2 linked regions of the Homo sapiens genome follow. The protein of the gene in region 1 purifies or fractionates together with the protein of each later gene. This does not show direct contact. Each region holds a gene or a part of one and is shown in the gene's direction. Other genes may lie near its edges.

Region 1 (3,500 bases):
TTCTTTTACCCAGGTTATTGAAAGGAATATGGAAATAGATCACACAAAGAAAGTAAATGAGTCTAAAAATATATACTAAATCAATAGAACTTAATCACTGTGAGAGTTGACAGTCTCAAACATTCTATCCCTAAATCTCTGCATAAGAAGTCTTTATTAAACACACTGTTTCTAATGATGGTTCTGTTTTATTATTCCATTCTGTATTTCAATATGCTCTGTAACTATATTATTATAATGAATACAAAATTTTTATCCCTATGTTGTATGCCTTTTCCTTAGTGGCATCCATATACAGATAATATGTCCTGATGTAGGCTGACTGCTTCCATTCCATGTAATGAATGTGAACAGTGCTTGATACCTAATAACTATAAAATCAATGGCAGCATTATTATTAGTCTATTTTTCTTCAATATAAATAAAGCTGTCACATGTAAATTTATGTATATGATACCTTCCTGCCTCCCACTTCTTTATCCCCATGTTTTAGGTTGTTTCCTTATGGTAGATCCTCCAAAATAGGTTTTTAGGAATAAAATATCAAAAGGTGTGGACATGGACATTTTGTAGAATAAAGCATATTGTCAATTATTTTTCAAAAGGATAGTGCCAAGTGTTAGTGCTTCCATAGTTCATGAAAACGTCATTTGCGCTATATCATTGCAAACATTACTAAATTTCTGGCCCACCAGCCACACTTATGTCAAAAACGGAGACACTATAAAATTTAAAACAAACATACCAGCCGGCGCAGTGGCTCATGCTTGTAATCCCAGCAACTTTGGGAGGCTGAGGCGGGTGGATTGCCCGAGCCCAGGAGTTTGAAACCAGCCTGGGCAATGTGGCGAAACCCCATCTCTACTAAAAATACAAAAAAGTAGCCAGACGTGGTGGCAGGCACCTGTAATCCCAGCTACTCAGGAGGCTGAGGCAGGAGAATTGATTGAACCCGGGAGGCGGAGGTTGCATGAGCCAAGATCGTGCCACTGCACTCCAGCCTGGGCAATGGAGCAAGACTCTGTCTCAAAAAAAAAAAAAAAAAATCAAATTTTGTATATTCAAATTGGTCACCTTTGTGTACTTTATTTTATTGATTCCATTAATCAAAACATTTTTGGATCTCCTTTCTTGAAATTGCCTTTAGAACAATTTCAAGTAACAAGCATGTTATTACAGACAGATTTATTACTATTTCTGAGCATACATACATATACACATATATGATTTTAGATAGAGCCATATACCTAGAAATAGTAAATTTGTTTGTGTGTATATGTATGTGTCTACTCATTTTAAATAAACTTGTGATAGAGATGTAATTTTGAGCCAGTTTTTCATTTGCTTAAATAACTCACCAAGTAACTAATTTAGTTTTCTTTACTCTTAATGTTAAGTAGTGAGATTCTGTTGAAGGTGATATTAAAAACAATTCTTTATAATTGACATTCATGTTATTTTTTAAAAGCTTATTTGAAATCAAATTAATGATTATTTTTCATACCAGTTTTATTTTATGTATGTGATTAAAAACAGGCTTCCCTGGTGGGCATTTGTTAATTTGTTAATATATATCTGACTGCTCCATGGGGTGAAAGCCCTTTATCTTCCTACTTGGTATGCATTGACCAGTCCACAGGTTCTACTTGTTTGCATGTGGTTTCTCAGACATGCTAATGTTGCTTTACCCAGTAGGGCCTGGAATTTTTATCAGGAGGGAAAAAGGCCTTTAAAATGAAGTTCTAAATTGATAAGCGGTTACATTTCACTGTGTCCATGTTTATATTTATCTATAGTCTCTCTTTACTCCAATCTACCTACTTACAATCTTGAGATTTTATCTTAAAAATGGAAAGGCAACAGGTCAAATATGCACACATACGTACATACGCATACACACATCCTAATTACACACAGTAACCAAATAAAAACAGTTAAAATGACTGCTGGACAGATATAAAATCCAATATTATAGGAGATAGGACTCTCATATAAAGACTGAGTGACAAGCTGTGAAAATTTATGTACAGGCATACCTCGTTTTATTGTGTTTTGCTTTATTTCATTTCACATACATTGCATTTTTTAAAAATTGAAGGTTTGTGGCAACTTTGCATTGAGCAATCCTATTGGTGCCATTTTTTTCTGACAGCATGTTCTCACTTCCTGTCTCTGTGTTACATTTTGGTAATTATTGTGATATTTCAAGCTTTTTCATTATTACATCTGTTAATGATGATTTGTGATCAGTGATCTTTGATGTTACTGTTGTACTTTGGGTTGCCACAAACCAAGCGCATATAAAATGGCGAACTTAATTGATAAATGTTGTGTGTGTTCTGACTGCTCCCCACCAACCAGCCATTCCCCCAACTCTCTCTCTCTTCTTGGGCCTCCCTTTTACCAGAGACCCAACAATATTGAAGTTAGGTCAATTAATAACCCTACAATGGCCTCAAAGTGTTTAAGTGAAAGAGTCACATGTCTCTCACTTTGAATCAAAAGCTAGAAATGAGGAAGGCATATAGAAAGCCAAGAGGCTGGGTGTGGTGGCTCACACCTGTAATCCCAGCACTTTGGGAGGCTGAGGTGGGCAGATCACCTCCAGTCAGGAGTTCAAGACCAGCCTGGCCAACATGATGAAACCCCGTCTCTACCAAAAAATACAAAAATTAGCTGGGCGTGGTGGCGGGTGCCTGTAATCCCAGCTACCCGAGAGGCTGAGGGAGGGACAATTGCTTGAACCCAGGAGGTGGAGGTTGCAGTGAGCCAAGATCATGCTACTGCACTCCAGCCTGGGTGATATAGTGAGATTCCGTGTCAAAAAAAAAAAAAAAGAAAGAAAGAAAAGGAAAGCCAAGATAAGCTGGAAACTAGGCCTTTTTCATCAAACAGCCAAGTTATGTATGCAAAGGAAAAGTTCTTTTTTTTGAGAAGGAGTCTCATTCTGTTGCCCAGGCTGGAGTGCAGTGGCACAATCTCAGCTCACTGCAAGCTCCGCCTCCCGGGTTCACGCCATTCTCCTGCCTCACCCTCCCGAGTAGCTGGGACTACAGGCGCCTGCCACCACGCCCAGCTAACTTTTTGTATTTTTAGTAGAGACGGGGTTTCACCGTGTTGGTCAGGATGGTCCCGATCTCCTGACCTCGTGATCTGTCTGCCTCAGCCTCCCAAAGTGCTGGGATTACAGATGTGAGCCACTGCACCTGGCTGGAAAAGTTCTTAATGGAAATTAAAAGTGCTACTCTTACGAATGCTCTAATGATAAGGTAGTAAAACAGACTTATTGCTGATAGGGAGAACGTTTTAGTGTTCTGTATAGAAGATCAAACCTGCCACAATATTCCCTTAAGCTAAAGTCTAATCCAGGGCAAGGCTCGAACTCTCTTCAAGTCTATGAAGGCTGACAGGGGTGAGGAAGCTGCAGAAAAATTGTTCCAAGCTAGCCGAGGTTGGTTCATGAGGTTTAAGGAAAAAAGTTGTCTCTATAACATAAATGT
Region 2 (3,500 bases), on another chromosome or scaffold:
AGGAGGTCCCTTCTCTCCTTGCTCATAAGGCCATTTCTTTCAGCTTCCTCCCAGACTTGGCATAGCCAGATATGCTATTTCTCATATCCCATCTTTTTTTGCCACTCTGTCGCCCTGACGTTCTGTAAATATGCTTGAGTCTTTCCTATTTGGAGAAAGTCTCCTGATACTGGTTTCCTCTTTAGCTACTCACCAGATGCCTTGAAAGAGTTATCTCTACCTGCTTGTCTTTTCTTATCTCCCAGTCACTTTCTGATCCATTATTTCCATTCTTTCAGCAACTATTTATTGAGTGCCTAACACGTACCATGCACTGTACTAGGTTCTAGAAAGGAAAACAAAACAAAAACTCTTGCCTTCCTGGAGCTTACATTCTAACAGGGGAGACAGGTAATAAACAAGATAAATTGGTAATGTTTGTATTTTGTTTGAGTGGTAGTAAGTGCTAGAGAGCAGAATAAAGCAAGAAAAAGAGAAATAGAGGGTTGTGGTCTGAGGATGGTTGTCAGTATTAAGTAGGATGGCTAGAGAAGGCCTCACTAAGAAGGGTAGATTTGAGTCCCAATCTGAAGGAAGTGAGGAAGAGAACCATATGTATATCTTGGAAAATAACATTACAGGTGGAAGGAATGACAGATGCAAAGACCTTGGGGCAGGTGTGGACCTGGTACATTATTGAGGACCAAGAAGGAGGTTGATGTGACTGGAGAAGAGAGTGAGCATGATTGTGGAACGGGGGTTGGTCCCGGGTGTAACAAGAGGAAGGGCAGAGGCAGGTTTTGTAGGGCCCTGGAAGCCATTGTAAAACTTGGGCCTTTACTCAGAGTTAGATGGGAAGGCTCGGGAAGACTTTGTGCAGAGGAATGGCGTGATCTCACTTCTGTTTTAACTGATGGTGCTAAAACACCATCACTCAGATGGTGTTAAGTGACTGAAGCAGGCAGAGATGAAGCAGGGAGATGAGGCAAAAGGTTTCTAGAATGAGGCTGGGCATGGTGGCTCACGCCTGTAATCCCAGCACTTTGGGAGGCGAAGTGGGTGGTTTGCTTGAGCTCAGGAGTTCAAGACCAGCCTGGGCAACATGGCGAAACCCCATCTCTACAAAAAAATTAGCCATGGGTGGTGGTGCACACCTGTAGCCCCAGCTACTCAGGAGGCTGACATGGAAGGAACGCTTTAGCCCAGGAGTTTGGGACTGCAGTGAGCCATGATCACACCACTGCACTCCAGTCTGTGTGACAGAGCAAGACCCTGTCTCAATAAATAATAAATAAATAAAGGCTACCAGAATGACCCAGCTGAGAGATGGTAGTGCTGAGGAACAGAGTGGTAGCAAGGGAAGGAGTGAGGGTCAAATTCTGGATATATTTTTAAAATACAGCAGATCTTGATGAAAGATCGGTTGGCAGCTAAGAGTAGAATTAAGATGACCCCAAAGGTTTTGGTCTGGGCAACTAAAAAGATGAACTGATTTTAACTGAGTTGGAGAATCCTGGAGGAGGTCAGCAACTTTTTCTGAAAGGGCCAAATAGTAACTATCTAAGGCTTTATGAGACCTATGACCTGGTTTGCACTATTCAGCTCTGCCTTTGCTGCCAGAGACAATAGGTCAATTAACAAGTGTGGCTATGTTCCCATATAATTTTAGTTATGGTCACTGAAATTTGAATTTCCCATTATTTTCATGTGTTACAAAAGATGCTTCTTTTGTTTCTTCTCAGCTATTGAAGGAAGCATGTACGTGTACATGAGAATGTAAAAACCATTCTTAGCACTTGGGCTGTACAAAATAGATGGCAGCCTGCACATGACCCAAGGGCAGTAGTTTGCTGCCCCATCCTCCATTTTATTCCCCATGTCTAATCATCTTTTATGAAATCCTGCTGAGTCTACCATCACTAAATATCTAAATATCACTGCTTTAATTCAGCCTTCACAAGTGCTCTGGATTGTTCGTTCATTTTCAAAATTTTTACTCTTATTTTCCACCTGAAATACTGTGTTATCCACCCAGCTAGGCTTCCTATCATGGGTCCATTTTTGTTCAGCCCATTCTTCATCCTTTTGCCACTACATTGTTTTTTAAAGCACAAAGATAACTTCTCTCCAGGACAAACTTCTTAACATGCCATCCAAGGCCTTCACAGCTACTCCTTCCCTTACCTTTTTGCTGTCTCCTCTATTTCCCTTCCAATAAATCTCCATTTTTACCATAGGAAACCACTCTTAATCCCCCAAACATGTCATTTTCTTTCACATGTTTATGCCTTTACATGCTGTTCCATATTCTGGAAATACCTTTTCCGTTTCCTATACAACCAACTTCTGTTCATTCATAAAGACCCAACTCAGAAGTCCTCTTCTGCATGAAGCCTTCCACAGTGCCCACAGGAAGAGTGAGATGCTTCCTCCTCTGTGATCCCACAGTGCCTTGTCTATACTCTGTGCTAGCACTGGTCATGTTGCATTGCAGCTGCTTGTCACACACTATGGTGACAGCCCTCTTGCCTACCATAATATCATCAAACACACAGTTATTAGAATTTCTGTGGAATGAATTTCCCCATATTTACCTTGATGAAAATAGCCCACCATTAACTGGCCATGTAATCTTAGACAGATCTCTTCCCCTTTTGGTGTTATTTGCCCATTTCTAACATTAAAAGATTAGACTAAATAACCTCTTAGGTCCCTGCTGCACTGGTATTCTATGATTTCTGAGCTCTTATTTCACCCAGCTTCTCTCAAATTCAGTTTTATTGTCTGTGTAGGGTGGTCTGGGAATTACATCATCACAAAGACCTCTTTCTTTCCTCTACTAATGAAGGCACCTCTGTGTCGGGAGGAGGAGATGGATACCAGGATAAGTGGGCCCCGGCCCAAGGACACCTCCATATTAGGAATCAGCCTTCTTGTCTCATGGAATATCTCTATTTGGTTAACAAGCACAGTTCATAATTATGTTCCAGCCATGAGTCCAGGAGAAGAGATGAAATCCTCATGTAAACATTTGTAAGCATCTAAAATCTCCACTCACTGTCATGGAACAAAGAACAACATTTGAGGAAAGCCCTACAATCATTTCAAAAATAAAATACTTTTAAAAAGTATGTGTAAACACATTCTGTTAGGTTTTCAATAGGTTGTGCAGCCTGAAATCAGTAGGAAATCCAATGAGGGCTTTGCCTGAGGACCAGAGCACCAGCACAAGGAGACCTCCTCCTGCACAGGCCCTAGGCAGCATCCTTTCTTTTCTGTTTTTTCTGCAGATGCCATGAGGGTAGCCGTTGTGTGGTATCTTTGGTGCCTAGCATACTACCTAGTACTTAACCAGTGCTCCCTAAAATGCTTCTTAACTAACTGTCTGAATCATCACTGGGCATCTTATTCCCATAGAGGGAGTCCCCAGGTTACCCCAAACTCTGCTTTAACCTTGGATGACTCTTCCAGTCCCCAGATTCTATCCAGGTCTCTATTTTTGAGCGTGTGTGTGTGTGTGT

The links.
Region 2: the proteins of DPH5 (region 1) and PARVA fractionate together in Homo sapiens (co-fractionation; one large-scale study listed by BioGRID). This does not show direct contact.

What each region holds. Positions count from the first base shown.
Region 1 is NC_000001.11:101,015,785-101,019,284, reverse strand, and holds part of DPH5 (diphthine methyl ester synthase), read left to right. Parts: intron 1-3,500. UniProt on the Homo sapiens protein: S-adenosyl-L-methionine-dependent methyltransferase that catalyzes four methylations of the modified target histidine residue in translation elongation factor 2 (EF-2), to form an intermediate called diphthine methyl ester.
Region 2 is NC_000011.10:12,384,071-12,387,570, forward strand, and holds part of PARVA (alpha-parvin), read left to right. Parts: intron 1-3,500. UniProt on the Homo sapiens protein: Plays a role in sarcomere organization and in smooth muscle cell contraction. Required for normal development of the embryonic cardiovascular system, and for normal septation of the heart outflow tract.